2 linked regions of the Homo sapiens genome follow. The protein of the gene in region 1 purifies or fractionates together with the protein of each later gene. This does not show direct contact. Each region holds a gene or a part of one and is shown on either strand. Other genes may lie near its edges.

Region 1 (3,943 bases):
CCTGGGCTTCCAGCTTGCAGATGGCAAATCTCGGGACTTCTCAGCCTCTATAATAGTGTCACCCAATCCATCACAATAAATCTCTTTTAAAATAGCTATACAGTTGACCCTCAAACAATGCAGGTTTTAATTGTGCAGGTCCACTTATATGTGGATTTTCTTCCACCTCTAGAACTCTTTTTTGAGACAGGGTCTTGCTCTGTCACCCAGGCTAGAGTGCAGTGGCACGATCTTGGCTCACTGCAGCATCCACCTCCTGGGTTTAAGTGATTATTGTGCCTCAGCCTCCCAAGTAGCTGGGATTACAGGCGTGCACCACCACGCCCGGCTAATTTTTTAATTTTTTTTTTTTTTTTTAGAAGAGACTGGATTTCACCACGTTGCTCGGGCTGGTCTCAAACCCCTGAGCTCAGGCAGTCTGCCCACCTCGGCCTCCCAAAGTGCTAGGATTACACGCATGAGCCACCGCGCCTGGCCAGTATTTACATTTAAAATGTGAAACTGGGATTGCGGTGGCTCATGCCTGTAATTCCAGCATTTGGGGAGGCTTTGGTTAGGAGGACTGCTTAAGCCCAAGAGTTTGAGGCTGCAGTGAGCTGTAATAACACCACTGTTCTCCAGTCTGAGCAACAGAGAACGTGTCTCTAATAAAAACAAAAATGTGAGATGATGCCTAGGTTAGAATCAGCAGAGGAGAAGCCAGAGAGAGCAGAGGCAAAGGAAGAGAACGTTCAGCAAGCCAAATGAAAACAGTGTTTCAAGGAGGGGCAGTGATCCACAGCATCAAATGCTGAACAGGACTGAGACCTAACTTAACAATGCATTTGGCCACCTAGAGATCACTGGTGGCTTTGACAAGAAGCCTTTTTAGTGGAGTGGTGGAGACCAAAGCCTGACTAGAGGCTCAAGGGTTCAAGACTTGGAGGAGAAAAGGCATTAGTGAGGGTAGACTAAGGCCTTTGGCTGCAAACCGGAGCCGAGGAGGAGGTAACTGGAGGATAGCGAGGGTGAAGGAGGCTGTTTTGTTGTTCTTAAGACGGGCATTTTTTGGCCGGGCGCGGGGGCTCACGCCTATACTCCCCACACTTTGGGAGGCCGAGGCGGGAGGTTGAGCCTCCTGGGCAAACGACGAGCTGTTAGTGTATCTTGTTAAGAACTATATATATATACAAAATTTTTGTGCAAATCATAAAATAAGTGCTGGAGTTCGGGGCCCATCCTCTGTCCGCATCTTCGTGACCCGGGTCCGAGTACCCCACCTGGAAGCTGCGTCCGTGCCGAGCCCAGCGTGTCGCTGTTTCCCACCCTCGCCGGGGATGGAAGCACGCAAGCGCAGACCTCGAGCGGCCGGGCGCAGGGCCCGCCCTCCCCGAGCCCCGGCCCCGCCCTCCTCTCCCGCCCCCACCCCCACGAGCCCCGCCCCCCTCCCGCCCAGAGCGCGTGCGCACCGCCCCTAGAGCGCCGCCTCAGGGAGGTCGGGAGCCGCGGCGCGGAGGGAGGACTCAGCCCTTCGCTCCCGCGTTTCGCCGGAGGTCTCAGGCCACGGCCCGTCGCCACCTACCGAGTCCGGGACAAAACAAGCTCGTCGGGCTGGAAACTGCGACGAGGGGAGCAGGCGCGTTCCTCGAACCCTTTTTCGGAGTCTGCGGATGATCACAGACCTGCGTTCGAAGATTGGCGGCACGTCGAGAACCGCACACGCTTTTTTTTCCTTTTATGAGCGTAGTCGCGCGCGGAGGACCTTGCACGCATGCGTAGTCGTTCCTCTGTGACGTGACCCGCTGCCCCGTGGGAAATGTAGTTTTCACTTGGCACACCGCTCCGGCTCTTGGCGGAACCCTAATTTAACCAACCAAAGTGCTTGTGCGTTTTCAGCGTTTTCTCCCATTTCCCCAGACTCTATTTAAAACAAAATGCAATAAATAAATAAATAAATAAAACTTGAAAGCGAACAGATTGCTGCTTGCTGGAGGTGGGTGGGCGCAGGGGTAATATGAAAACTGTACTTTCTGCTCAATTTTGTTGTGAACCTAAAAATGCCCTAAAAAATAAAAGTCTGTTGTTAAAAAATTAATTAAAAACAGGCCGGGCGCGGTGGCTCACGCCTGTAATCCCAACACTGGGACGCTAAGGCGGGCGGATCACCTGAGTTCAGGAGTTTGAAACCAACCCGGCCAACATGGTGAAACCCCGTCTCTACTAAAAAATACAAAAATCAGCCGGGCGTGGTGGCGGGTGCCTGTAATCCCAGGTACTGGGGAGGCTGAGGCTGGAGAATCGCTTGAATTCAGGAGGCGGAGGTTGTAGTGACTGGAGATTGTACCATTGCACTCCAGCCTGGGTGACAAGAGGGAAACTCCATCTCAAAAAAACAAACAAACAAAAAACAAGCAGATCTTTAGACCCAGAAATCGCACTTCTAGGGAATCTTCTCAGGAAAGTACTAAGGATATGGACGTGCAATGGACATGTAGCCTCAATGGTATTTTATCGAAAGCCATCCTGGTATCTTAAAGTTTCTTACATAACCTACAAATGTCTGTAATTATTTGTTGATTATTTGATAAACTTGCAAGTCCTATGAGATTGGGATCATCTTGTGTTCACCTGTGTATTCCTAGTACCTAGCACAGTGCCTGGCCATCACATGTTTCTTTTTTTTTCTCTTTGAGACAGGGTCTCGCTCTGTTGTCCAGGTTGGAGTGCAGTGGTGCCATCAGGGCTCCTGAGTAGCTAGGACTACAAGCACACACCAGCACATTCTGCTGATTTTTAAATTTTTTTTGGTAGAGATGGGGGTCTTGCTATGTTGCATAGGCTGGTCTTGAGTTCCTGGGCTCAAGCGATCCTCCTGCCTCAGCCTCCCAAAGTGCTGGGATTACAGGCATGAGCCACCAACCTCAGCCCCGTCAGTATTTTTCTGTTTATTAGAGAATCTCAGGCGTTAGCACTGAAACTATGTTAACCCCAAAATTAATGCATCATTTTCTTCCATCACACTTGCAGTTCTTTCTGTGGGCGTCAGGTCAGTGAATGACATGCCCATCCACCCAGCTGCAGTTCTACTTACTGCCTTTTATGAAGGTTATGCTTTGAGGGATTTTGCAAATTTTGCATTTGTAAAGGTCTCAGGGGCTCTTTTTCCTGATTGTTAAATATCAGCCCTAGCTAGGCCAGGCGTGGTGACTCACGCCTGTAATCCCAGCACTTTGGGAGGCCGAGGTGGGCAGATCACGAGGTCAGGAGTTTGAGACCAGCCTAGCCAATATGATGAAACCATGTCTCTACTAAAAATACAAAAATTAGCTGGGCATGGTGGCACGCACCTGTAGTCCCAGCTACTCTGGAGGCTGAAGCAGGAAAGAACCACTTGAACCCAGGAGGCGGAGGTTGCAGTGAGCCAAGATTGCGCCACTGCACTCCAGTCTGGGCAACAGAGCAAGACTCTGTCTCAAAAAATAAATAAATAAAATAAATTTAAAAAATCAACCCTAGTCACTGATCAGGAGAGATGTAGAGCTTACAGTTGTTTTTTAAATTATTTTGGTCTCTGCCCTGTTTTAAAATTTTATCGTTAATTTCTGATTTTTCTACAATAAACATGTATTTATTAACTTTTTAAAAAGTGTTTTAGAGTGTTGTCCACATGTAAGGAATTGCTCTGTCTTCTCCACATCCACATTTCTCAAAAGAATCATCTATACTCAGTTTTCATGTCCCACCTCCTACTTAGTACAATGTCCTGAGCCAGCACCTGGGGGTTATCCCTGACATCACCCTTTCCCTCCCCTCCCTCATTCAATCCACCACGTGTCTGCAATATAAAAACACATTTGTTAGGCACTTGCTATGCACCGGGCACTGTTCAAAATCCTTTACACATATTCATTCATATAACACAATCCACCTACTTTTCACCTCCACCACATCCACCCTAGGCCAA
Region 2 (3,600 bases), on another chromosome or scaffold:
GCCAGGCTCTTCCCATATGTGTCCTGTGGGATCTTCCTAGCAACCCTCGGGGGTGGGTTCTTATTCTTACAGTTGAAGAACAGCAGCTGTAAGAAACTAAGCGCCTTGTCAGGGATTCCATGGCATTCATGTGATAGAGCCAGGAATGAACGCAGGCCTATGTGATTCCAAAGCCTGGGCCCTAACCCATTCTGGGTGAGAGCATTAAGCAATGTGGGTCAGAGGCTGGGAGGCCATCGGTGCCACCGCAGGAGTGGCAGAAGGGCTTGACCTGATTCACTGGAGATTAGTGTGGAGGCAGGGCCTGGACTCATGGGCTGTGACTGTGAGTGTGGAAGGAGATGGTGTGGGGGCTGGCGACAGTGATGTGACGAAAGATGAGACCTGTTGAGTTCTACTTTCAGATGGCAAATGGTGACACCTGGCCTGGGGGTTGTACAACTACATGTGGGATTCATGGGAGAGGGTGGATTGTGGCCAAATCTGGCAGCTTTGTGGTCACATTTTGTACCAGGGCTGGGGGATGGGGCCTGAAGGGGACGGGATGTAGCTGAGCAGGGTTAACAGTGACACCTGGGGGCTTAGGGACAACCCGTGTGCTGGTGTGTATGTTTGATAGCGAGGGGCAGAGAGAACAGGTTAAAGGACCTTGGCTACAGTGGGTAAGAGTTGGCAAGCAGTGGCCTAGAGTCAGATTAGCGGGGTCTGGCGTCTCTAGAAGGCCGGTTTGTGATGGGTTCTGCGCAGGATTCCAAGAGTTAGAGGATGCAGGCCCTGCTGGAGCACAGGAACACAGACGCAAACACAGGTGACAGCTGAGGGCAAGTCGCAGTGGTGGCAGAGGAGCCGGAGCTGTTGATTGGTTGCCAAAGAAATTGGGCTGACACTGAGGAGCTTTAGGAGGGCCAGTGCTCCTCTGCAGGTGGTGGTCAGGAGGGCTTTGGCGGGGAAGTGGGGTTCAAGCTGGCCCTTGTGGTTTTGAATCAAATGAGCATGTGAAGTTCTCTGTGAACCATGGAAGGCCTTGTGCACACACGTCAACACTCAGGCTCCTTCTTGGAGCCAGGTGGGGTGTCCTGAGTAGAGCTGCACCCTTTGAGATGATGGTGGACACCCAGGAGGTGGCAGAAGGCCAGACACATCGATGGTCACTGCCTTGTGCGTGCATTCATTCTCTCGCTCATTCATTCAGTTAGCACAGCCTCGGGGCCTGGTGTGCGCCAGCCCCTGTGGTGAGAACAGGCTAGGAGGAAGACAGCTGCCTCACCTGGCAGGTGCCGTGTGGGCAAGTGGGCCTCAGGATGTCCTGCGGAGGGAAGGACACAAGATGGCTGTGCAGGTAGAGGAGAGTGTGGAGGAAGGAAGGGTTTTGTGTTTTAAGAGTCTGGTGTATTCAGGGCCAGGCAAAAGCCAGCTTGGGGTGAGGGAGGAAGCTGGTGAAAAGCCCTGGGTGCTGGGTACAAGAGTGTTGCTGGCTCAGGCTCTGTGATCACGCAGTGTCTGCTCGCCAGTGCCAGGCCCTGAGCAGGTGCTTTGACACGCGCCCCTCTCACCATCTCCCCGTCCCCTAATCCCTGAGACAGGTGCTCCCCACTTTTACAAACGAGGAAACAACTGTGGGTGATGTGGGAACGTGGAATTTCAACCCAAGGCTTCTGACTCCATGCCTAGAACCATCCGTTTCATTGTTCACCAGCCATGCCGCAGGATCCCCTAGAATTCCCAGGGATCCCCTGAGATCTGCTGGATTGTCACCTCTGAGGCCGAGGTCTGGAAATTTGGATGGATGGAAAGAACCCCAGGGAGCTGTGAGGCATGGTTGGGAACCATGGGAAGTGGGGACTTACCTTCCCCGCCGGGGCAGGAGCCTCCACTGTGCGGGCTTCCAGGGATGACCATTAAGGATGGCGGGAGGGGGAGGGAGAGCCCGGATGGGAGAGTGGCTGGGAGGGGCAGGGCACGCAGAGGTGGTCTCCAACTCCAGCCCACAGTGGGACACCCAGGATGCCTGGTTTACCTGAGTCACCCCCACCTCCCAAGCTGCTGAGTCAGGGGTGGGGCTTAGAATCTGCATTTCTAACAACCTCCTAGGTGCTGCTGATGCGGCCGCCGTGGGACCCCACTTTAAGAACCACTGGGGTAGAGTGGTAAGACATGTCACTTTATAAAACTTCAAAATTATTTAAAAATATATTGATTTTTATTGTGGTACAATACGTGTAACATAAAATTTACCATTTTAACCGTTTTTAAGTGTCTGGAAGCATTAAGTCCACTCCCAGTGTTGTACAGCCATCACCACCAGCCACCTCCAGAATTTTGTCATCTTGGCAGACTGAAACTCTGTCCCCATTCAACACTCACTCCCCCTCCCCCTTCCCCAGTCCCTGGCACCCCCATTCTACTTCCCGTCTGGCGCTAGGGACCTCAAATGCGTGGGTCCTGCAGGATTTGTCCTTTTCTGACTGGCGTATTTCACTTTGCCTCATGTCGTCAGGGATCATCCGTGTTGTGGCATGCGTCAGCACGGCCTTCCTTTCATGGCTGAACAATCCCTTGTCATCTGTGTGGCATAATGTGTTTATCTACATAGCTGTGACGGACATTCGGTTGCCTCCACCTCTTGGCGAATGTGAACAAGGCCGCTATGAAGATGGTGTTGAGGGATCTCGTCAAGTAAATAAAAGTGGAATTGCTAGGTTAGGTTCTGTGTGTAATTTTTTTTTTTTAAGGGTTTCGCTCTATCGCCCAGGCTGGAGTGCAGTGGCACAATCATGGCTCACTGCAGCCTCCACCTCCTGGGCTCAAGCGATCCTCCTACCTCAGCCTCTCAAGTAGCTGGGACTACAGGCATGTACCACCACACCCGCCTAATTTTTAAATTATTTGTAGAGACGGGGTCTTGCCATGTTGTTCAGGCTGGTCATGAACTTCTGGGCTCAAGTGATCCTCCCGCCTCAGCCCCCGAAAGTGCTGGGGTTAGGCTAAGCCTGGCCTTGTGTGTGATTTTGAGGAACCGCCCTGCTGTTTTCCACAGTGAGGAATGCCACTTTCAAAATCTCTGTCACAGTTAGCCTTATCTGACCTGAAGGTGTCAGTCACCTTGAGGGCCAATGACAACTCTAAGTCACTGAGGTCTCTGAGTTGAGAGAGACCTAGAACTGAGGCTTGCAGGGCTGCCCACTGGAACAGGCTGGGGGCAGTGGCCAGGGACAGTGGGGTCTCCGAAAGGTCTGACACCTGGAAGCAGTGGCTGCAAAGCCAGTAAGTCCCCAGCCTCTGGCATCAGAGGGATGCTTGTGCTGAGAGTTGAGCTGTTAGAGCAGGGAGGAGGGAAGGGGAAGATACAGGGGGTGACCCGGTGTCCTCAAGTTGTCTCTTTAAAGGTGACAGACAAGGCTGAAAGAGGGAAGAGCCAGGGGCCACCGCATGGCCGTGACTGAGTTGGTGTGCCAGCCCCGAGGGCTGTTGGCATCCCACGCCTACCTTTGCCCGGCCGCTCTGTCCTGCCGCTAGCTGCAGGTGGCCCTAGTTGTTGGCCCAGTGTCTGAGGCTGAGCTGAGACTGGAGGTGCTGAAGTGACTTTGCTGTGGAATGTGA

What was found.
Region 2: the proteins of SGF29 (region 1) and TADA2B purify together in Homo sapiens (affinity purification with mass spectrometry; 8 studies listed by BioGRID and IntAct, with this or other methods). This does not show direct contact.

What each region holds. Positions count from the first base shown.
Region 1 is NC_000016.10:28,551,716-28,555,658, reverse strand, and holds the start of SGF29 (SAGA-associated factor 29), read right to left. Parts: upstream 1,740-3,943; 5' UTR 1,562-1,739; intron 1-1,561. UniProt on the Homo sapiens protein: Chromatin reader component of some histone acetyltransferase (HAT) SAGA-type complexes like the TFTC-HAT, ATAC or STAGA complexes.
Region 2 is NC_000004.12:7,046,372-7,049,971, forward strand, and holds part of TADA2B (transcriptional adapter 2-beta), read left to right. Parts: intron 1-3,600. UniProt on the Homo sapiens protein: Coactivates PAX5-dependent transcription together with either SMARCA4 or GCN5L2.